Homo sapiens: one gene and its partners. The protein of the gene in region 1 purifies or fractionates together with the protein of each later gene. This does not show direct contact. Each region holds a gene or a part of one and is shown on either strand. Other genes may lie near its edges.

Region 1 (3,500 bases):
TGCTTTTCTGTGATGTGGCGCTGTGGGCATGGGGGTTTTCCCCTTGGTATCATTCGTATCAGTTTTGTGAGTTATGTTTGCTTGGAACTTGTGAGCTGTAACTGCTTCACATTTTCTTAGGAAACTTAAATTTAGCAGCAGGAAAATGAATTCATAACAGCATCTGTAGCTGAGAAGCTTCTGGGAAACTGGCTGCCCGTCATAGCCTCACTTTTGTGTCGGTGGACACTGGCCGACTCGGGGTCTGCTGCCAGTCAGCGCTGGGCTGCAGGTCTGCTGCTGTGAGGCCCGCTGCTGTGTGCTTGCTGTGGCTGCTTTTTAGGTAGATGAGGCAGATGCGACGTGGGGATGGCCACGGAGAGGCCACAGGCTCATTTCAGCGTCTCGTCTCTGACCGTCGCTGTCTCAAGTGAGGTGCTGCTGTGTGCTTGCTGTGGCTGCTTTTTAGGTAGATGAGGCAGATGCGACGTGGGGATGGCCACGGAGAGGCCACAGGCTCATTTCAGCGTCTCATCTCTGACTGTCACTGTCTCAAGTGAGGTGCAGACACTGGGGGCCGGGTGGGCCCTGGCTACTGATGGTGGTTCGGGGTCTGCAGTTGGCCGCTGGCCCTGGAGTGACATCAATGTGAACTCTCTGTGGGGTGTTCCCAGCTTCCAGATTCGTCCCTTATTTTAGAGTGCTCTGCCAGGTGGGTGGGTGGGCAGAGCTTTGCAGGGAAGCAGCAGTGAGAGCTCCTGCAGGCGGGCATCAAATGCCCAGCAAACCCCTGCGCTACCTGGGAGGTGGCAGCATCTCCACTCCTCCAGCATCCAGCCATGTGACTTTCTGGATGCAACTTCACTTCTCTGTGTCTGTTTCCTTTTGGTAAAATGGGAGCTTCTGTCTGTCCTTTCTGGGGGACCTGGGAGGATTAAGTGAAACAGCCTGCAAAACCCCACCACTCCAGGGCCCACTGTGTTCTGGGAACAAATGCCTCTAACCCTGGAGCTCCTGCTTTCATGCCAAAGCCCTGGGCCCTGGGTCAGGGCTCTGATGAGTGGAGAAACCGGAGGGCGGCCCTAAAAGGAGTGAGGCAGGGGATGGGCAGGACCCTGGGGAAGGGGCCAGACCCCCACCTCCACCCCCTACCCCATCCCTACCCTCACCCCTTCCCCCACCCCATCCCAACCCTCACCCCTCACCCCACCCCTACTCCCACCCTTACCCCTAACCTCACCCCCACTCCTACCCCCACACTCGCCCCTACCCTCACCCGCACCCCTACCTCACCCTTAACCCCACCACTACCCCCATCCTCACCTGTACCCTCACCCTCACCCCTACCCTCACCTCATCCCTACCTTTACCCTTACCCCCACCCTCACACCTACCCACACCCTCACCCCTATACCCACCGTCACCCTCACCCCCACCCTCAACCCTACCCTCACCCTTACCCCTACCCTCACCCCTACCTTCACCCTCACCCCTACCTTCACCCACGCCCCTAACCTCACCCTCACCCCTACCTTCACCCTCACCCCTACTTTTGCACTCACCCCTACCCCCACCCCTACCCCCACCCCCATCCCTACCCCCACCCCCACCCCTACCCCCACCCCAACCCCTACCCTCACCCCCACTCCTACCCTCAACCCCAACCTTACCCTCACACCCCTACCCTCACCCTCACCCCTACCTTCACCCTCACCCCTACCCCACCCTCACCCCTACCCTCACCCCCACCCTCACCCTTACCCCAGGCTCCTCACTGCTCTGTTTCCACCCCTCCTCTGTGGCCATAACAAATTACCAGAAACTGGGTGGCAGAGGATCACAGGATTGATTCTCCCACAGCCTGGGCAGGCTGTGCTCCCTCTGACAGCTCTGCAGAGGATCCTTCTGGCCAACTCCAACTGCTGGTGGCTGTATCAGTCCCATCTCTGTCTGTGCCTTCTCTGTGTGTCTGTGTCACATTATTAAATCTCCCTTGGCCTCTTTTATAAAGACACCCATTATTGGTTTGGGGCCAACCTTAACCCAGGATGATCTCATCTTGAGCTCCTTGACTCAATTATGTCTGCACAGACCCTTTTCCCAAATAAGGTCCCATTCACAGGTGCTGGGGTTAGGACATGGATGTAGCTTCTGTGGGGGCCACAGTTCAACCCACTCTGCTGTCCCTCCTGGGAAGCGACTGTGGGACCTGAACCCGCCCTAAGTATCAGAGGGTGACGGGGAAGAGGAAGGTGGGTCATTGGGTTGATTTGTAAACAAGGGAGGAAGGTGAGCCGGGATCTGCCACCTGCCCTTACAGAATGACCCATGAGATGCAGAACTGCTGTTAGATCCTAGTCAGCTATTCAGAGGCTCAGCAATCAGGTGATAATCATGACATCGAATAAAGGCACCTCCAGAAAATTGATCAGGTTATGGATTTCTTTCTCTCTTCCAAAATGAAAATCACCTTATTGGTTCCATTATAAAATCAGACCATGATATATGTTCATTGTTAAATTATCAGGCGATTCAAAAGGTAAAAAGGTAAACATCCCCCCAGATTCCACCCGTGACACTCGTGCTTGACACTGGCCGGTTTCCCCTGACGCTTTTCTGCTGGGCGTGGAGGAACAGGATTCCTCCCACCTGCTGACTTTCGCACCCACTAGCACACCCAGAGCATGGGCCAAGCCACCCTTGGCAGCTGTGCGGGCTCAGGTGTGTGGCTGACCTTTTTTTTTTTTTTTTAAGACAGAGTCTCACTCTGTCACCCAGGCTGGAGTGCAGTGGCGTGATCTGGGCTCACTGCAACCTCTGCCTCCCAGGTTCAAGTGATTCTCATGCCTCAGCCTCCCAAGCAGCTAGGATTACAGGCATGTGCTACCACACCCAGCTAAGTTTTGTATTTTTAGTAGAGACAGGGTTTTACCATGTTGGCCAGGGTGGTCTTGAACTCCTGACCTCAAGTGATCTGCCCGCCTCGGCCTCCTAAAGTGCTGGGATTACAAGAGTGAGTCACCACGCCCAGCCTGACCTCTCTCGTTTTTGTCTTGTTTCATATTTTGGATCTTAGGCTATCTCCAGTTGTCAGTATGGTAAGTGTTCTCTCACAGGGAGTAGCCTCCGTGCCCTGTCACCTTAGGGGTAGTGTGCTCCCTAGGAAGAGTGGCCTCACTACCATTCCCGGCCGCAGGTGTTACCAGCTGCCCCTGCAGCAGCCATCCCAGGCCCCAGGAGCAGGCGATTTTTCCCTTTCAACTCCCTGCTGAGCCTCCCTCTGCTCCTCTGTCTCAGCCAAGGCTAGCGCCTTCGTGGAAGGCCAACTTCAGGCGGTAACCATGGGGTCTCCCTGCTACAGGCCATGTTCGAGCTGGTCACTTCCGAGGCGTCCTACTACAAGAGTCTGAACCTGCTCGTGTCCCACTTCATGGAGAACGAGCGGATAAGGAAGATCCTGCACCCGTCCGAGGCGCACATCCTCTTCTCCAACGTCCTGGACGTGCTGGCTGTCAGTGAGC
Region 2 (3,500 bases), on another chromosome or scaffold:
TCCCTAGCTCATCTAGAACACACAGCTCATTGTCCCTCAATTACTGACTCTAGGAAGGCCAAGGAACTGTGCTTTCTATATACCCTGAGTAGAATGTTAGCTCTATGAGGGCATAGACTTGACTCAATTTGTCCAGCACTATATCCTTGGTGTCTGCATAGTACTCAAAAAATTTTGCTGTATGAATAAATGTAATGTATTCAGGCTCTCCAAAATTCATCCCAGTATTTATGAAAACTCTATTTTATTACTACAAACCTTGTTATCTAGCTAACCACCCTTCCTGATTAAATCTAAGCCAGATCATCCTCAATGGATCATTACTTAAGTCTCTTGACAACAGTTTTTCCTACTTTTTTTTTTTTTTGTTTTTTTGAGACAGTTTCGCTCTTGTTGCCCAGGCTGGAGTGCAATGGCGCAATCTCAGCTCACCACAACCTCCGCCTCCCAGGTTGAAGTGATTCTCCTGCCTCAGCCTCCCAAGTAGCTGGAATTACAGGCATGTGCCACCACGCCTGGCTAATTTTGTATTTTTAGGAGAGATGGGGTTTCTCCATGTTGGTCAGGCTGGTCTCAAACTCCCGACCGCCGGTGATCTGCCTGCCTTGGCCTCCCAAAGTGCTGGGATTACAGGCGTGAGCCACCGTGCCCGGCAGTTTTTCCTACTATTAAACCATGTAGTGTATATGGTTACTGAACCTTGACAATCACAGAGATTTGTGGGAGTATAGCTGACAGAAGAAGCAAAAGATAGCCACCCAAATTTCTATTTGGTTACTAAAAAAATAAAAGAGGCAGATGCAGTGGCTTACGCCTATATTCCCAGTACTCTGGGAAGCAGGAGGATGGCTTGAGGCCAGGAGTTTGAGACCAGCCTGGGCAACACAGCGAGACCCCATCTCTACAAAGAAAACAAAAAGAAAAAAAAAAGAGATACCTAGAATAGTCAAACTCAGAGACACAGAGTAGAAGAGTGGTTGCCAGGGGCTGCGAGGAGGGGAGAATAGGGTGTTATTGTTTAATGGGTACAGAATTTCAGTTTTACAAGATGAAAAGTGTCCTGTGGCTAGATTGTGGTGATAGTACCAAAAGAAGAAAACAAAATGAGGTGGGCACAGTGGCTCACAACTGCAGTCCCAGCACTTTGGGAAGCCAAGGCAGGAGGATGGCTCGAGCTCAGGAGTTAGAGGTCAGCCTGGACAACAATGAAAGACCTGATTTCTACAAAAAATACAAAAATTACCCAGGTGTGGTGGTGTGCACCTGTAGCCCCAGCTACTCGGGAGGTTGAGGTGGGAGGATGGCCTGAACCCAGGAGTCGGAGGTTGCAGTGGGCCGAGATCATGCCAATGCACTCCAGCCTGGGTGACAGAGTGAGACTGCGTCTCAAAAAAACAAAACCAAAACAAACAAAAAAAACACACTTGGGGAAATTCAACTGCATTTTTGTATTTTTTCTCTTAAAAAAGATTTCTTCATTTCCTGCTGGGGTGCCAAAAAATAAAAATTTAAAAAAGAACCCTTTTGAAATACCTAATTTGAAAAGAATTAGCTGAATAGAGCCATAAACAAAGTTTAATGAGTATTTGTTTAAAAAAGAACAACCCTAAGTGGTTCTTAGTAATAACATCCATTGTTTTATACTGACCAATAACCACTGATGATTTTGTTATGTGCCCAGTACTATGAGGGACATCCCTCACGTATACCCGCCTTTCCATCTCCACCTCCACTATTGCAATTATTTCCTAAAAAAAAATTTCTGATTATTGGGAGGCCGAGGTGGACGGATCACAAGGTCAGGAGATCAAGACCATCCTGGCCAACATGGTGAAACCCCATCTCTACTAAAAATACAAAAATTAGCCAGGCGTGATGGCGCGCACCCATAGTTCCAGCTACTTAGGAGGCTGAGGCAGGAGAATCTCTTGAACCCAGGACACGGAGGCTGCAGTGAGCCGAGATCGTGCCACTGCACTCCAGCCTGGATAACAGAGCGAGATGCTGTCTTAAAAAAAAAAAAAACTTTATTATCAAGCTCTCACAGCACTACTAGAGTGATCACTAAGTCAAAATATACTGAGTGCCTATTTTGTGCCAGTAACTGCTCTAAGGTGCTAAGGATACAGTAATGGAATCAGATGCAGCCATACTCAGAGTTCACAGTCTGGCCCAGGAGAAAGAAAAACTAAATCATGTAATTCCAGGTAGCAAAAGTGCTATGAAAAGCAAGCAAGAGGGTAAGAGGCAAGCTATTGCAGACTTAAGTCAGGCAAGGCCTCTCTGAGATGAATGACATTTGACAGGTAATCCTCCCCTGACTACTGTCCCAAGAATGTCTGTTTTATTGGAAAAGTAATGTGGATGTACATCCAGATGCTTCATCTAAAACCAGCAAATCTTCCATAGTCTATGAGAAGTGATTCTGTTTAGTAAAGCATAAAATGATGAAGTAATAGTGAGACACACAGTGAAAAGAGAAAAGCAAGTTTTACCTCCTTTGGTAGAGTAGCATAGTGTGTGTTAATACCGTGGAACCAGAAAAAGTCTCACAGAAGGGAGGTCAGTATTCAGATGCTTATCGAAAACCCTTTCCAGGTTCTTCCAGAACACACATTTCTGATTATGTCACTCTCCTCAATTCCATAGCTCTCCACAGTTAATCATGCTGGAATGAGACCCTCCATTGTGGCATCAAACTACTTTACCATTCATATTTCCCAGGGTCTCTCCACACGTACTCAGTTTTCCAGGAAAACAAGCACTCTAGTGAATCCTCTTCCCTCTAACTGGATCCCCTTCACATCAAATCTCTTTCCTATAAACTGTGAGTACCTACCAAAGTCCTATCCTTCAAAGCATATCTCAAATACCAACTCCTAAAGACATGAATATGATATCCCCAAAGAAATGGCATCTCCTGGCTGGGCACGGTGGCTCACGCCTGTAATCTCAGCACTTTGGGAGGCCGAGACGGGTGGATCACGAAGTCAGGAGATCGAGACAATCCTGGCTAACATGCTGAAACCCCATCTCTATTAAAGATACAAAAAAATTAGCCAGGCGTGGTGGTGGGCACCTGTAGTCCCAGCTACTCCGGAGGCTGAGGCAGGAGAATCACTTGAACCCGGGAGACGGAGCTTGCAGTGAGCCAAGATCGCGCCACTGCACTCCAGCCTGGGCGACAGAGTGAGACTCCGTCTCAAAAAAAAAAAAAAAGAAAGAAAAAGAAATGGCATCTCCTTCCTCAAACTCCCTTTCCAGTCCAACTCCGTATTATAGGATTCATGGCTGAAGAAACAGGCTTATTCACTTTTCTCTTATAGCATGTTTTCAATATTAGATACTCATTTATTCAATATGTAAAAGACTAAAGGAGATCTACAACTAGGCTGAAGAGAAACAGTCAAGATGGCATCAAGTCCTATTTGGTATGGTTCTAGGCACTAAATCCTATGGCTGGCTGGGCAAGGTGGCTCACACCTGTAATCCTCGCCCTT
Region 3 (3,500 bases), on another chromosome or scaffold:
ACTATTTCAGATTTCAAGATGGAGGAAAATGGGGGCTCCTGCGTTCGCCCTGCATAGAGTGACATAAGTAGATATCACGGGATTCTTGACCCCTAGCCAGTGGCTCATCTTGTTTGCTAGGCTTTCTTTGATTATTTTTTCTTACTGACTTTATCCCTTGATTTAAATCCCTCTATAAATATTAAAGGGAATAAACGAAATAAATAAATGAAATCCAGGGATGTTAGAAGATTTTCTTTAGTTTTTCACTTTCTTTCCACTCATGATAATTGAGCATAGACAAACATGCAGTTCAGCCGAGCGTGGTGGCTTACACCTGTAATCCTAGCATTTTGGGAGGCTGAGGTGGGAGGGTCACTTGAGGTCAGGAGTTTGAGACCATCCTGGCCAACATGGCAAAACCCCATCTTTACTAAAAATTGGTCGGGCGTGGTGACACATGCCTGTAATCTAATCCCAGCTACTCAGGAGCCTAAGGCATGAGAATCGCTTGAACCTGGGAGGTGGAGGTTGCAGTGAGCAGATAATGGGCCACTGTACTCCAGCCTGGGTGACAGAGCAAGACTCTGTCAAAAAAACAAACAAAACATGCAGTTCATCTTTCCCTCAGTAGATATCGAAAGAGTGGGATAAAAGGAAAAATATATATGTGTGTGTGTATATGTATACATATACACACACACATATACACATTATATATACACATTATATATACACGTTATATATAATTTTGTATGTATATAAAATAATGTGTATATATGTTTGTGTGTGTATATATATATATACACACCAAATATATATATATATATACACACACATACACCAAAGACTATAAGTCATTAAGATATCTTTGCATAAATCACTATTAAAACATGGTGGGGGCCGGGCACGGTGGCTCACGCCTGTAATCCTAGCACTTTGGGAGGCCGAGACGGGCGGATCACGAGGTCAGGAGATCGAGACCATCTTGGCTAACACGGTGAAACCCCGTTTCTACTAAAAATACAAAAAATTAGCCGGGCGTGTTGGCGGGCGCCTGTAGTCCCAGCTACTTGGGAGGCTGAGGCAGGAGAATGGCATGAACCTGGGAGGCGGAGCTTGCAGTGAGCCGAGATCGCGCCACTGCACTCCAACCTGGGAGACACAGCGAGACTCCGTCTCAAAACAAAACAAAACAAAACAAAAAAACATGGCAGGGTTTTGTTGTTGTTTTTTGTCTTTTTTTTTGAGACAGGGTCTCGCTGTGTCTCTCAGGCTGGAGTGCAGTGGCGCGATCTCGGCTCACTGCAACCTCTGCCTCCCAGGTTCAAGCGATCCTCCTGTCTCAGCCTCCCTAGTAGCTGGGATTACAGGTGTGCATCACCATGCCCAGCTAATTTTTGTATGTTTAGTAGAGTCCGGGTTTCACCGTGTTGGCCAGGCTGGTCTCCATCTCGTGACCTCAGGTGATCCACCCGCCTCGGCTTCCCAAAGTGTTGGGATTACAGGTGTGAGACTCCAGGCCTGACCAAACATTGTGGCTAGAGTAGTATTTACATCTTCTGCATTTAGCAGTGGGAATTTGTGACTGTCCAGGAAACAAAACTTCAATAGAAACTGGTACCCCTCTCCAAAACAGCATTTTGCCTACTCATCATTTTGTAAAGGCTAAATAGGCAACTGTGTAACCTGCGGTTAATAGAGTATTAAGTTAAATTCTTTTGAGCTAATGAAGTCATGTTCTTCATGTTTGTTGTTATCAATGGCTATAACCCAGCTGATTCTACATCTATATACCCATTGTTTGTTGTTTAAAAAAGAAAGAGTTGTTTCATCTGATTTTTTTTGAGCCCAGACTTGGGCATTTATTATCTTCTAAGCTTGAAACTGTTTCACCTTTAGGGTTTGGCTAAGCCAAGTCCATTTTTTTTTTTTTAGCAAGCATATTAAAATATTTTATACAATATTTTGGATTTGGATGGAGAATAAGCAAGATCTTTAATTTTCTTTAGATTTGACTTCTAGTGCCTTTTTAAAAACGTTTATTTTAGGTTCAGGGGTACATCAGGCTTGTTACAGAGGTAAGTTGCATGTTGCAGGGGTTCGGTGTACAGATTATTTCGTCATTCAGGTAGTAAGCATAGTACCTGATAGGTAGTTTTTTGATCCTCACCCTCCTCCCACCCTCTACCCTCAAGTAGGCCCCAGTGTCTGTTGTTCCTTTCTTTATATAAAGCATATCTAGGACTGCATTTTTATTCATTAATATATTTATATACAAAATACTTTATAATTTCTTACATTTTATACTCCTTTGGATCTGTAACATTATTATCATTGTGCAAAAAATATTCTCACATTATATAAGCTGTATTTTATGGTTACAGAGCTCCATTTTATTGTTAATGATTTCTTTTGATTTGGCTGTTAATTTCTTTTGATATCTGAACAGTGTATGGGTTTCGACAGACCATGATGAAATTGAGAATGTGGCCAAACAATTTGGTGCACAAGTTCATCGAAGAAGTTCTGAAGTTTCAAAAGACAGCTCTACCTCACTAGATGCCATCATAGAATTTCTTAATTATCATAATGGTATGAATTTGATTAATAGTTTATTCAAACCTTTATGTACTTTTCTACTTCCTTTATTATCTTATAAGACTTGTTTTAACATTTGAATTCCAAACCTTAATATTACTTGCTTGCAAGGAACTTTTTTTTTAAATATCCTTTTCATTTCTCTTGTCTTTTTAAGAGGTTGACATTGTAGGAAATATTCAAGCTACTTCTCCATGTTTACATCCTACTGATCTTCAAAAAGTTGCAGAAATGATTCGAGAAGAAGGATATGATTCTGTTTTCTCTGTTGTGAGACGCCATCAGTTTCGATGGAGTGAAATTCAGAAAGGAGGTAATCTCTTTTCAGTCTTTATTTTAGCTGATTTTATTGAGAATCAATTTTTTTGTATATAAATATCCTTTAGGCATGAGGAGAGTAAAAGGGGAGCTGTAAAAGAGAGTATTTGACTCATTACTTTAGTAGGTAATGACATTTACAATCAGCTGTAAATCTGTTATCGAGCCAACACAGCTAGACCAAATTAATTCTTTGCTTTACTCTTTACAAAGGGACATTCTAATCCTCTTATTTCTGTTTGCCTTTTGAGGCAGATATGCTGTTTTTCTAGATCAAATACTTTTATGTTTGTTCTAGACATGTTTGATGAACTCCATACAAGTCATATAGAGATAGAAAGCATCCACCAAAGTGTTCTGAAGGATTTCAAGAATGACATTTTGAAGTTCTTCCCCAAATTCCTAACTCCATATATAAGAAGGGTTCCCTAGGGTTTACTAGGCATTTTGCCTGCCATGTCCAGTGTGCTATAAATCTTATCCAGAGAATTATTATAAACACTGTGTTTTTCCATTCAGTAATGTACATTTTAGTTGTTTCGTAGGGATTCCATTTTCTGTTGAAATTTTCCATTTTTTTATCCATTTTAAAAAAAGGTCAT
Region 4 (3,500 bases), on another chromosome or scaffold:
GTAATCTTAGCACTTTGGAAGGCTGAGGCGGATGGATCACTTGAGGCCAGGGGTTCAAGACAGCCTGGCCAACATGGCGAAACCATCTCTACTCAAGATACAACAATTAGCTGGGCGTGGTGGTGCACATCTGTAGTCCCAGCTACTCAGGAGGCTGAGGAACGAGAATCGCTTGAACCCAGGGGCAGAGGTTGCAGTGAGCCAAGACTGCACCACTGCACTCCAGCCTGGGCAACAGAGTAAGATCCTGTCTCAAAAATAAAAATAAATAAATAAATAAATTTTTGTTGGAATACTACTTTAAATTCTTTGGAATAGAAGAATACCTAGAAGTGGAATTGCTGGATCATATGGACAGTCTATGTTTAATTGTTTCAGGAAGCACCAATCTGCTTCCCACAGTGGCTTCACTGCTTTACATTCCCATCAGTAATGTGTGAGGGTTTCAATTTCTCCATATCCTTGTCAACATTTGTTATTTTCCTTTTTTTATTATGACCATCCAAGTGGGTATGGAGTGGTAACTCACTGTGAGCAGGTTCTTTCTTATAATACATTTAACTTTATACTTAAAAAAAAAAAAAAAAAAAAAACTTAACTATTTGCCCTTAAATTTTTCCTTTTATGCACTGCTTATCCTTTTGGATGGCCTTTGAAAAATCTACTTATTTATATATTACCTCAAATAAGTAATTTAATCTTCCTTTCATATGCTAAAACTATGACATGTTGTACTTCTAGCCAAGTGACAGAATAGGGTTCCTTTCCTACTAATTTTCTATAAAGTCACATAGTCTATACTATAGCATAGCAAGACCTTGTATTGAGGAAAATTCAGCAATCATCTTTTTAAATGCCCATTTTACACCTGACAGAGAAGGCATAATTTAAAGAATTTTAGTTTCATTCTTAGCTACACAACACTTTTCTCAAGTTTTGTTATATAAAAAGGGGGTATGGGGGAGGGATACATATATATCTGCTTTAAGGGCAAATCAGTTTCTTTATCAAACTTTTGCAATATTTAACCATACGTGCAAAATATATCTTTGAAATAGGTCCCAAGAGAATCAACTGAATTTTCTATTATAGTAATGTCTAATAAAATGTCAAATTTGATACATAACAGTCTATCAATTGACACACTGTTAAAGGTATCCCCACAACACATACTCTGCTTAGTATCAGGTTTCCAGAACTCCAGAAATTCCAGAATATTGTTTCTTATTAAACAATAAGGCCTGATGAGAAAGTAATTTAAGTACACCTTTTAAACCTTTTTCAAATTTTATATTATAGAAAATATATTTTGAGGAAAGAATCTAACATTGCAATTTCAGTTTTTTCAAATATTACATATTAAAATGTCTATAATGTCATAATTAGGGAAAAAGTTATTTTAAAATAAAAGGGAAAAATGAATACAAAGCAAATTTCTGTTACAATCATATGGAGGTTTAAGAACAGGACTTCTAGAGCATGACTTGCTCTGGAATAAATACTGGCATTACCATTCACTGGTTGTTTGACTTAGGCAGCAAATTATTTATCTATTCTGTGCCTGTTTTCTCAGCTGTAGAGGGTTTGATACACAACCACAAGGATTCAGGAAAAAGGAATGGACCAGGTTATGTACATTTTAAAAGTATCTTTGGGTATTCATGACCAATTATTAACTGCAATAGGGGATTTACAGATCTAACTTCTACAATCATAATTGTTATGTAGTTTCTGTATATAAACATGAAAAAATTACCAAAAAGTATGGAATTTTAAAAAATAAAAAGTATCCTGAATCATAGCAATTATGTTTTCTTACTTACTGGGTGATTTGCTGAGGCTTATCTTCTCCATAGGTTTTGCTAGTTTGGGTTTCTTGATAAAGGTTCCACTGGGCTTATTAAATGGCTGCATCATTTTTCTCTTTATTCCTCTTGCAGCAGCAACTGTCACATTGGTGGATTTGTTTTGATAGTCAACAACAATTCCGGGTCTATGAATGCTTCCAAAATCACCCATATGCTGTAAATTTGTGAAATCAATAAATATTAGCATATTGTCCAAGAAAAAATATGAATTCATATAAAATTTTCATGTTAACTATCTACTAATTTTCACCTGAAAATTCCCTGGAATGTAACTAAATTTTACATGTCCATTCTGAAAAAACACATTGAAAAACTCTGTAAATTATTACATAAACTCAAATCCATTGAATTAGTATTTTTATTTCCAGTAGAACAAATAATGAATATTTGCTAACTATGTTTTTACTTTTACATTTCAAAATTACTTGAGATTATAGACAACATATGTGCCTGTCCAAATGTTACCACTTGTACAACTCTCTGACAACTCCTCTTCAGAGTTCCTAATTGATGTTTTCCCATGAAAAGACCCTAAAAGAAATCTTTATTTTACTAAAACTAAGATACACAAAGAAGACCATATTTGTAGTTTGAAGTAAAAAAGATCCAGAAATCATTTAGTATTCTCCCTGTTGAAAAAGGGAATGAGAAGGCGAGATGGAACATTAGTATGAAATAGGAGAGTTAAAGCATAACCATGCATCAACTTCCAAGACACACTTCAGATAAAGAATTGCATCTGACGTTCCATTCACATTCTTACCTAGAGAAACATTTTCTGACCCAGAAGCCCAAGAAACAAAAGTTTACAGATGAAGAGTCATGCAACCAAACGACTCTTTGTGTCCCTTCCTCTTCTCTTGTCATTATCCAAATCTACTACACCAAGAGGCCACATGTCCACAGAAATTTATTCTGCTAATCTTACTTTTAGAAGATAAAGATGGAGGAGTAATCTGAAGAGAAGGACCCAAGGGGAATTGTACAAGTGAAGATTTAAAATGTAGGTCCTATTGGCTCATCTACTTCACTAACAGGAGGAAAGAAAGAAAAGTCCATTCAGACTAGAATGGTAAATACAAAGTACAGGAATACTTGTTTATTATGAAAACGAAATTTACTTTTGAAGCCTCATTAAGAAAACACACTTTGTCTAAAATAATATACAGCATGGAAAATATTAAGTGTTTTCCAAATTTTCAAACTAGAATGGATTTTCAATTCAAAACCCAAAGCCTATCATCCCAACTATTTTCAATTAACCTATGATCATGAAGTATAGTGGAACTGTAATGTATCAGTTGCTTACATTTGTATACTATGCTCAGGAATGCCTATCTAACCTAGTTGTGTTTCCAGGTAATTTAAAAAGTCACAACAGGAAAATCTTCCTTAATTACGCATTAAAGGTGCAATGCATTTTTACATAAGTAAAGAGTAACTGTTAAAAATGCAAAATTTCTACACAAGTATAACAAGCTACACTGACATATCAAAAGCTAATAACCAGTCAAAAACGTGTACCCTACTACCTTTTTTACTAGAAATACTTTCCTCTGCAAATAAAATATTAAGAGCAGCTGACTTAAAAGGATTCTTACATTATAACAAAAATACAATACTCTTTAAATG
Region 5 (3,500 bases), on another chromosome or scaffold:
GTATGTGTGTGTGTACGCACACATTTTGTTGTTGTTGTTGTTGTTTTTTGAGACAGAGCCTTGCTGTGTTGCCCAGGCTGGAGTGCAGTGGCACAATCTCGGCTCACTGCAAGCTCCGCCTCCTGGGTTCACGCCAGTCTCCTGCCTCAGCCTCCTGAGTAGCTGGGACTACAGACGCCCACCACCAAGCCTGGCTAATTTTTTTATATTTTTAGTAGGGATGGGGTTTCACCGTGTTAGCCAGGATGGTCTCAATTTCCTGACCTCGTGATCTGTCCGCCTCGGCTTCCCGAAGTGCTGGGATTACAGGTGTGAGCCACCACACCCAGCTACATGTTTTCAACTCTTTTTTTGTTTGGTTTGAGACAGAGTGTCGCTCTGTCACCCAGGCTGGAGTGCAGTAGTGCGATCTCGGCTCACTGCAACCTCCGTCTCCCAGGTTCAAGTGATTCTCCCACCTCAGCCTCCCGAGTAGCTGGGATTACAGGCGCGTGCCACCACGCCCAGCTAATTTTTGTGTTTTTAGTAGAGACAAGGTTTTGCCATGTTGGCCAGGCTGGTCTCAAACTCCTGATCTCAAGTGATCTGCCCACCGTGGCCTCCCAAAGTGCTGGGATTACAAGCATGAGCTGCTGTGCCCAATCAACTCTTTAAAAATGTAAAAACCATTCTTAGCTCAAGCGCTGTCCTAAAACAGGTTGCAAGCTGGATTTGGCCTGTAGGCCAGAGTTTGCTGACCCCTGCTCTAAGTGATCACCTGGGAATGTCCCCTGCTCCAAGTGATCACCCGGGGAATGTGGGAACCGACAGGCTTTTCTGGAGTTGGGAGTTTCTTTAAGATCTTATCTATTCCATCTATTAGACTCATTCATTGTGTTTATTCCTTTCTGTTGATGCATTGGTAAGAAACAGTATGGGAGAATAGATTGAAATATACAATGCTGTTTTCTCAGCATGATGTGCTATTTGCTCTTTATAAATGACAGGTGATTTAAAACAATTAATTGGTTATTTGCTGATTTAATTGGGATCTAATTCTACGTGGCTGGAAAAAATTTCCCCTGAATTTCTAAGTTTTTTGGATTTTTATGTCATCATTAATCTTGGATTCTTTCCAAAAGGAGCTCTAGGCTATTGTTTGTTTGTAGGAATTACCCCTCCTGAAGCCCGAGAGTTGTAATGGCTTACATGACTGAACGTTGGTCCCCTGTTAGTGTGGTTCTCTAAGAAACCTTAGGACTGTTGCCTTGGAAATAGTGAATTTTCCCCTCTCAATGACCAAGACACAGAATGTCTGTGTAGGGCATTTTCTGCAAAGAACAACAACAAAAACAATTGTTTTAAAAAGCTTTTCAGAAATATAAAAGTAGGGTGAATAGTATAATGAATTTTCATGAACCCATCACCTGGTTCTATAGTGATCAAAACATGAAAAGTCTTGTTTCATCCCAACTTCTACCCACTTATCTTACACTGGATACTTCTACCTGTGTAAGATTACTTTGAAACAAATTCTATGTAACATCCCTTTTCATCCAAAAATACTTCAGTGTATATATTTAAAATATAAAGACTTATAACCACAATAATATTCTCACACTTAAAAAGATTAAAAATAATCAAATATCTGCACATTTCTCATAATTTTTTAAACAGTTGAATTGTTAAAATCAATATCCATATATAGTCTACATAGTGCCTTTGTTTGCTAAATCTCCGAATCTTCTTTCAATCTATAGGCTCCTCTCTTTGCATTTTATTTGTTGAATAAACTGGATTGTTTGTACTGTAGATTTTCCACAATCTGGATTTTGCTGATTGCGTTCCCACACAGTTGTCTAACATGTTCCTCTGTTGCTTGTATTTCCTATAAATGAGTAGTAAGATCTGGAGGCTTGATTCAATTCTGGTTAGATTTTTTTTTTTTTTTGGAGGTGGGAAGAATACTTTATAGGTGATACTGTATAGTTCCTAATGAATCATGTGTGAAGGCAGAAAATGTCTAGTTGTTTATTTTTATGATATAAAGATAGGTCTTAAAAGTACCTTTAAAATTTTTTGTTTTTTTTAATTGACAAATAATAGTTGTACATATTCTTGGGGTACATAGTGATGTTTCAATATGTATAATGTGTAATGATCTGATCAGGGTAATTAGCATATCCATAATCTCAAACATTTATCATTTCTTTGTGTTTGGAATCTTTTTTTTTTTAATTTAAAAGTAAACTTTAGCACACCAACATGGCACATGTATACATATGTAACAAACCTGCACATTGTGCACATGTACCCTAAAACTTAAAGTATAATAATAAGAAAAATAAATGTGAACATAAACTAAAAAGAAAAAAAAAAGTAAACTTTAATGTCGAAAATGCAAACTTGGGAATCTTAAAAGTATCTTAAAAATGCTTTCTAGTTCTCAGTGAGTTCAAATGTTGTCAGACTGATCTGTTCATTGTAAAGTTTGTGTGAAAGATTTTTACTAGGGTTTATATTAAATCTGCTATTTTTATTGATGAAGCAGTTCAGACATTAGAACTTAAGTTATTGAGGTAGTGGTCATAGAAAGGTGAGACATTGCTCATCTGACTGACTTTCTCTCTAATAGCTGGAAGAAGAACTGAGACAGCAGAAAGAAGCAGCTTGTTTCAAGGCTCGTCCAAACACCGTCATCTCTCAGGAGCCCTTTGTTCCCAAGAAAGAGAAGAAATCAGTTGCTGGTAGTATTATATGTACTCTGATGGGACTCGGGCAGAATTGTCAGACTTCCCAGTGGGATGCTGGAATTCAGTGTGTCAGTACAATGCTGTGTCAACTAGAAGCATTTGACTTTAGCAGATGGTAGCTTTTCTTCCCCTAGACCCAGTTTTTTGCCTTTATTGAACCCAGCAGCTATGTTGAGTTGCAGGATGTGTTAGGGCCAGATTCATTTAACATGAACCTTGGCAGAAGCAGCTGGCATTTCAACAACAATGATAGGTTTTCCCCATCCACAGAGAAACAAGTAAATGAGGGAGGGAGAGCCAGTATGGCTTTCTGGAATTCACCCTGAAGCAAACTTTAGATATAAAACATTTGATTCCTTAAACACTGGGCAGTGTGCTAGAATACTGGGATTCCACCGGGTGTGGTGGCTCATGCCTGTAGTCCCAGCACTTTGGGAGGCCCGGACAGGAGGATCACTTGAGCCCAGGGATTTGAGACCAGCATGGGCAACATAGCAAGACCCCATCTCTTTTTCAAAAAAATCTTTCCAAAAAGGGAAAAAAAGAATATTGGGATCTTTCTTCTATGTCTGCCTCAAAATCAATCACTATATAGTTTTGTGCAAGCTACTTTATGTCTTTGCCTTTTTCCCAATTACACCAGACGATTTCCAGGGGCCCTTTGAACTCTTAAAATTCTAAAACTTTTTGTATTTAGTTGGCTCTACCTTTCTCCCAATGGGGCTTGTTTAGAGCACAGTCTTCCTGTTAGTGTGCATGTCTGTGCCA
Region 6 (3,500 bases), on another chromosome or scaffold:
ACTTTTTTTTTCAACCATTTGACAGAAAGCTTCTGTCACTTTTAGGCTATTTCCACTGTCACAGTAAAAACAGTTTGTAGCAATTCTTTAAATTATTACATTTGAATTCATTAGATTGAAAACTGTTCTGATTTTCTAAATTTTTGAACAGTAATATCACATCCTCTGCCAGCCAGAAAGTTTTATAATCTTGAAAAGAACTTTACTTTTAGGTTTAAGTAGACAAAAATAAAAATATCAGGAACTTTTTCTTCCTATATTAATAAAACAAAGGGCACAAGGCAGGGAGGATGGTGTAAAGAATCCTGCCTTGGAGTCAGGCAGAAACTGCTTCCGTACAGGCTAGACCAGGGGCCCCAACCCCTGGGCCATGGACTGGTATGGATCTCTGGCCTGTTAGGAATAGGGCTGCCCAGCAGGAGGAGGGCAGTGGGCAAGTGAATGAAGCTTTAGCTGTATTTACAGCTGCTCCCCATTGCTTGCATTACGCCTGAGCTCTGCCTCCTGTCAGGTCAGCGACCGCATTACATTCTCACAGGAGCCTGAACTCCATTGAGAACTGCACATACAAGGGATCTAGGTTGCCCGCTCCTTATGAGAATCTAGTGCCTGATGATCTGTCACTGTCTCCCATCACCCCCAGACGGGACTGTCTAGCTGCAGGAAAACAAGCTCAGGGCTCCCACTGATTCAACATGATGGTGACTTGTCTAATTATTTCATTATATGTTACAATGTAATAATAATAGAACTAAAGTACACAATACATTTAACGTGCTTGAATCATCCTGAAACCATCCCCCTGACCCCTGGTCCATGAAAAAATTGTCTTCCATGAAATGGGTCCCTGGTGCTAAAAAGGTTTGGGACCGCTGGGCTAGACCACTTGCTAGCTGGGTGACCCTGGAGAAGTTACCTAACTTCTCTGAGCCTCAGCTTTCTGTTTTCTTTTTCTATAAAATGGAGGAAATTGGAGACAATACTGCATGTAAAACACTGGGTATGCGGTGGACAGCATTCGTTCATTTGCTGACAACTTTTATCAGGCTAAACTGTCATATCCACTATTTCAATATGTCAATTACTCTTATAAATTGCACTAGGACAGAAAGATTGTATTTCTTCTCTGGGGACTAAATAGTGTTTAAAATAACCAAATCACTAGAAATGGATTTGTCCGTCTGGACTGGCTGAACTCTAAGAGGAGTAAGGCAATTCAAAACAGAAAAGACCACAATCAAAAGCAAACCCAGGGCCGGACATGGTGGTTCACAACTGTATACCTAGCATTCGGGGTGGGTGGATCATTTGAGCCCAGGAGTTCTAGACTAATTGGGCAACATACCAAAACCCTGTTTCTACAAAATATACAAAAATCAGCTGGGTGTGGTGGCGCACGCCTGTAGTCCCAGCTACTGGGGAAGCTGAGGTAGGAGGATCACCTGAGCTCAGGGAAGTTGAGGCTGCAGTGAGCCATGATCACAGCAACTGCACTCCAGCCTGAGGGACAGGGCAATATCCTGTCTCAAAAACAACGACGACAACAACAAACCAAACCCAGGGCAGAAGCTGGAGCCGCAACCTCGATTTCAGCAAATCTGGAAATCAGGGCTCAGTAGGAACACCGGGGTGGGCTCCATAGCCTCCTTTTAGGTTAGTGACAAACGTGCTGGTCCCTGGACTCAGGAGATGCTTTCCCATGTTTCAGGACTGTGGCTGTGCAGCCACCCCTACAGAACACATTAGCCTCAGGCAGGGCACCAAGGCACTCCTGTGTTAAACCAGATAATAGCAGTTTTCCCCCAATTTGCTGGAATGTGAATATCATATTCCTCAAAGTTTTCCTTCATGCACTTTTCAACTTTTGTTGCCTGCTCTTCCTTGCCTGCTGATGAGCAGTCACAGTGACAAAAGGAATTTAAAAACCGCAAAACAGTATCAATGGATGACTTGACAGCAGCTGATGAAGTATACTTCATTGGAGAGCTTCATTTTAATTGCCAAGCGCTGTTTGCATTCAGTTTAGATGATGAAAATTAAACATACTAATTTCTGTTTTTTTTCTGTGAAGAGCACTCTAACTGCCAGGCCCTCTGATTTCTCAGTCTGAGAACTTTCTTTAGGCCCCTGGTCTGAAGGTAGCTCTAAGCAGCCTTAGGGTGGACTAGAGATTCTCAGCAGAACTAAATACAATGTAGACTTTCTATTTTTGGTCATTCTGACCCCAGTCCCTATAGGGAAACCTGAGCAGTTGCTTGGCACACATTTTATCAGTAGCTGCTCTAACCATTCCAATTTGCTCCATCAGTTCCTTCTGGTCAAATTCCCACTGTATGGCCCTGGTCCAGCCCATCACTGCCTCTTGCCTGGATTACTGAGGCAGCCTCCCCGCACAGCCTCCACTGAATATTCTCATTCTCCTTCAGCCTATTCTCAACCCACCACCCAGAGTCACACAGATAAAACCTAAGTCAGACTGTGCTGCTCCTGTATGCAAAACCCTGCCTGGCTTCTTACCTCTCAGACTAAAACCCAGGTGTGAAACGCCAGGGCTGCCATCCACGCTCTGCCGTCTGTGGCCTCCTGACTCCCTTCCTACTGCTCCCCACCCCTCCCACTGTGCCCCAGCTGCACCTGCACCCGTAATGCCTGTAACACACCAGGCAAACTCCTGCCTGTGGTTCCCTCTGCCAGAATATTCATCACCGATACCCACTTGGCTCACTCCCACACCTCCACCCAGTGCTCTTCCCCGGCTGCCCTACCCACACGCCCTAGCCCCATTGCCCCCTTGCCCTCATCACCACTGCACATACTACATACTTTATTTACTTGTTTATTTTCTGCCACCCCCAGTGGAAGGCAATTTCCACTAAGAGGTGTGATATATGTGTTTGTTTTCTGGTTCACGGATCCGTGAACGCTGGTTCAACCTGTATTTATGGAATAAATGACAAAGTCCTGCTAACCCATGCCAGGGGCTGCCATGAGAATCCTGGACACGACAACTTGCGTGATGGCTTGTTTCGCAGCGTTCGCCGACTCCCCCAAGCGGTTCCCATTCTCATCCGTGACGGGAATGCCAACTTTGAGTTCCCTGCAGAGCAAAACACATACAGAGAGCTCCACCAATGCCTTCAATAAACGTCCTGAAATAGTACTATGTTGGGAAAGATCAACCCTCTACTTAATTCAAATACCCACTCAAGTGTCATTTTTGGTACTGACACATCTGTTTTTTTTTTTTTTTTTTTTTTTTTTTTACAGTCTCACTCTGTTGCCCAGGCTGGAGTGTAGTGGTGGCTATCTCCACTGACTGCAACCTCTGCCTCCCGGGTTCAAAGCGATTCTCCTGCCTCAGCCTCCCGAGTAGCTAGAATTACAGGCATGTGACAGTGTGCCGGCCAATTTTTGTATTTTTAGTAGAGACGGGGTTTTGCCATGTTGGCCAGGCTGGTCTTGAACTCCTGACCTCAGGTGATCCACTCGCCTCGGCCTCC
Region 7 (2,656 bases), on another chromosome or scaffold:
GGTGGTGGTATAGACGGTCTTGGGGTAGCTGGTATAGACGGTCTTGGCGTAGCTGGTATAGACGGTCTTGGGGTAGCTGGTATAGACGGTCTTGGGGTAGCTGGTATAGACGGTCTTGGGGTAGCTGGTATAGACGGGCTTGGGGTAGCTGGTAGTGGTGCTCAGGAGGCGTGTGGGCTGCTGGTGCAGCTGGAAGCGCACCTCAGCCATGGTGTTGTGCCAGGTGTGGTTGGGGATGCAGGGGACGTTCCGGCCGCAGGAGGCCCCTGCCAGGCACAGGCAGCTGCGCGGTGTGGAAGAAGTGCCGCTCGGAGTCATGCTTGACAAGGAAGTACACCTTACTCCTCTCAGTGGTGAGGGGTCAAACCACTCCTTCCCAGCGATGGGGCCAGCAGCCTGGCGAGGGCTAGGCACCGGGGAGGGATGCTGGATTTGGAGCTGGGGGGAAGGGGTCACCCTGCATTGGGCTCCAGTGCTCCGGGTGCCATGCCTGCTCCCCCACCACTGCCACCGCAGCCGCTGCGGGACACCAGGGGCTGGGGCTGAAGAGCAGCCTCGAGCTGGGCTGTCCAGGACACGGTCGCCCTTCTTCCTCGTGTCCGTGAGCTCAGGCACAACCTGCAGCTTAGCCAGCCCACTATGGCTGCGTGCGTGGCAGGACCCGGGCCACCATGGCTGCGTGCATGGTAGGGCACATGATTATTTTAGCCTCTGGTATCACTAACCATCCCTAAAGTCTCCAATGGTCTGTTCCTGTCTTTCCCTCTGGTTCACTTGTGGGGTCATGTTGTCTTCTGTTCTTTGTTATTTATTTTTTTCTTGAGACGGAGTCTTGCTCTGTCGCCCAGGCTGGAGTGCGTTGGTGCGATCTCGGCTCACTGCAACCTCTGCCTCCCAGGTTCATGCGATTCCCCTGCCTCAGCCTCCCAAGTAGCTGGGATTATGGGCACCTGCCACCATACCCAGCTAATTTTTCTGTGTGTGTGTGTGTTTTGTTTTTTGGTTTTTTTTTTTTTTTTTTTGAGATGGAATCTCAATTGCTCAGGCTGCAGTGCAATGGCGCAATCTTGGCTCACTGCAACCTCCACCTCCTGGGTTCAAGAAATTCTCCTGCCTCAGCCTCGCAAGTAGCTGGGATTACAGGCCCCTACCACCACAGTGGGCTAATGTTTGTATTTTTAGTAGAGACAGGGTTTCACCATGTTGGCCAGGCTGGTCTCGAACTCCTGACCTCAGGCAATCCGCCCACCTCGGCCTCCCAAAGTGCTGGGATTGTAGGCATGAGCCACCATGCCTGGCCTAATTTTTCTGTTTTTAGTAGAGACAGGACTTCACCATGTTGGCCAGGCTGGTCTCAAATTCCTGACCTCAAGTGATGTGCCCACCTCGGCTGCCCAAAGTGCTGGGATTACAGGCATGAGCTTCTGTGCCCGGCCTGAACTGTTAAGTGTTTGTGAAGAATTATTTGGGGGCCTATTTGAGAGCTGTTATATGGATCATCCTCCTGGAGAGGGTTCTTAAGCCTCTGAGACCGGGTTTGGGGCTGAGGCTTTCTGACCCACACAAGTCATGCTGACCCCTGAAGGGCCGCAGGCCAGATCTTGCCAGGTGAGCACTTTCCCCGCTCACATTCAGGATAGGGCGAGGGGGTTGGTACCGATTCACCCTCAGGGCCTAGATTTGGGGGCTTCAGCTTGCTGCAGATAGGTGCTCCCTTCACTCTCACCTGAGGCTGGGCTGGAGCCTGGTGTCTGCCCCACCCTGCTGGTCAGCCCCCTAGGACCTGAGCCCCGTAAGCCTGGACTGGCCACGCCCTGGGGCAGCAGCACTGGGTGCTTGGCGCTCACGACCTTCCTGGGCCCCTGGGTCCCTCACTTCTCCCTTGTTTCTACCTTCCTGGCTTGTCAGATTCCCACAGCTCTTAAGGAGAAATTCAGTATTTACTGCAGCATGTGTTTTCAGTGTGATGGTTCATCTAGGTACCCTAGCCTGTCATTGCTGGAGTTGGAAATCTCTGTTGTCTGCTGTTGTTTTGTGAAACAAGCGCGTGAGGTTATAAGTTTCCCTCAACGTACCACACTAACCACATTTCCCTAAGTTTTGATGTGTAGTGTTTTCACTGCCATTCAGTTCAAAATATTTTCTCATTTCAAGTATGATGTCTTCTTTGATCCATGTGTATTTTTAAGTTGCTAAGTGTACTTACTTTGGCCGGGCATGGTGGCTTACGCATGTAATCCCAACACTTTAGGAAACTGCGGGGGGGAAGGATCACTTGAACGCAGGAGGCTGAGGCTGCACGTCACAGGGAGAGACGGGCCGCGGTGATGTACGAGCTTCCTGTTGATAGGCAGTTAAGTTGGTTCGGGATAACGTGGCCTGCCTGGCACGGGTATTCCCAGAGTCACAGATGCTCACCCGTGCCAGCGTTGGCTGCTTGGGACATGGGGACGGCGAGGTCCCCACACCCCACATGTGAGCTGCTGGTAGCTGGGCTGAGCCCAGGTCCCATCCGTGTGTGGGGCGTGAGTGTGCGGTGCCATCGGGTCTGCACGGGCCTCGCCTCGTCCCGGACGCTCCAGGCTTCCTGTGGCACGGGTGCCGAGAGGGACCAGCCTGGGCCTGCTGAACCGAGGGGGTGGTCTAGGGCAGAGGC

What was found.
Region 2: the proteins of NGEF (region 1) and DDX42 purify together in Homo sapiens (affinity purification with mass spectrometry, with the first as the bait; one large-scale study listed by BioGRID). This does not show direct contact.
Region 3: the proteins of NGEF (region 1) and CMAS purify together in Homo sapiens (affinity purification with mass spectrometry; one large-scale study listed by BioGRID and IntAct). This does not show direct contact.
Region 4: the proteins of NGEF (region 1) and ZNF326 purify together in Homo sapiens (affinity purification with mass spectrometry, with the first as the bait; one large-scale study listed by BioGRID). This does not show direct contact.
Region 5: the proteins of NGEF (region 1) and TPX2 purify together in Homo sapiens (affinity purification with mass spectrometry, with the first as the bait; one large-scale study listed by BioGRID). This does not show direct contact.
Region 6: the proteins of NGEF (region 1) and SFXN1 purify together in Homo sapiens (affinity purification with mass spectrometry, with the first as the bait; one large-scale study listed by BioGRID). This does not show direct contact.
Region 7: the proteins of NGEF (region 1) and LRPAP1 purify together in Homo sapiens (affinity purification with mass spectrometry, with the first as the bait; one large-scale study listed by BioGRID). This does not show direct contact.

The regions. Positions count from the first base shown.
Region 1 is NC_000002.12:232,894,757-232,898,256, reverse strand, and holds part of NGEF (ephexin-1), read left to right. Parts: intron 1-3,340; coding exon 3,341-3,500. UniProt on the Homo sapiens protein: Acts as a guanine nucleotide exchange factor (GEF) which differentially activates the GTPases RHOA, RAC1 and CDC42. Plays a role in axon guidance regulating ephrin-induced growth cone collapse and dendritic spine morphogenesis.
Region 2 is NC_000017.11:63,777,170-63,780,669, reverse strand, and holds part of DDX42 (ATP-dependent RNA helicase DDX42), read right to left. Parts: intron 1-3,500. UniProt on the Homo sapiens protein: ATP-dependent RNA helicase that binds to partially double-stranded RNAs (dsRNAs) in order to unwind RNA secondary structures. Unwinding is promoted in the presence of single-strand binding proteins.
Region 3 is NC_000012.12:22,052,718-22,056,217, forward strand, and holds part of CMAS (N-acylneuraminate cytidylyltransferase), read left to right. Parts: intron 1-2,431; coding exon 2,432-2,574; intron 2,575-2,737; coding exon 2,738-2,893; intron 2,894-3,500. UniProt on the Homo sapiens protein: Catalyzes the activation of N-acetylneuraminic acid (NeuNAc) to cytidine 5'-monophosphate N-acetylneuraminic acid (CMP-NeuNAc), a substrate required for the addition of sialic acid.
Region 4 is NC_000001.11:90,008,610-90,012,109, reverse strand, and holds part of ZNF326 (DBIRD complex subunit ZNF326), read right to left. Parts: intron 2,023-3,500; coding exon 1,824-2,022; intron 1-1,823. UniProt on the Homo sapiens protein: Core component of the DBIRD complex, a multiprotein complex that acts at the interface between core mRNP particles and RNA polymerase II (RNAPII) and integrates transcript elongation with the regulation of alternative splicing: the DBIRD complex affects local transcript elongation rates and alternative splicing of a large set of exons embedded in (A + T)-rich DNA regions.
Region 5 is NC_000020.11:31,794,790-31,798,289, forward strand, and holds part of TPX2 (targeting protein for Xklp2), read left to right. Parts: intron 1-2,614; coding exon 2,615-2,726; intron 2,727-3,500. UniProt on the Homo sapiens protein: Spindle assembly factor required for normal assembly of mitotic spindles. Required for normal assembly of microtubules during apoptosis. Required for chromatin and/or kinetochore dependent microtubule nucleation.
Region 6 is NC_000005.10:175,513,060-175,516,559, reverse strand, and holds part of SFXN1 (sideroflexin-1), read right to left. Parts: intron 3,098-3,500; coding exon 2,970-3,097; coding exon of another isoform or gene 2,965-2,969; exon of another isoform or gene 2,824-2,964; intron 1-2,823. UniProt on the Homo sapiens protein: Amino acid transporter importing serine, an essential substrate of the mitochondrial branch of the one-carbon pathway, into mitochondria.
Region 7 is NC_000004.12:3,503,112-3,505,767, reverse strand, and holds the end of LRPAP1 (alpha-2-macroglobulin receptor-associated protein precursor), read left to right. Parts: 3' UTR 1-2,156; downstream 2,157-2,656. UniProt on the Homo sapiens protein: Molecular chaperone for LDL receptor-related proteins that may regulate their ligand binding activity along the secretory pathway.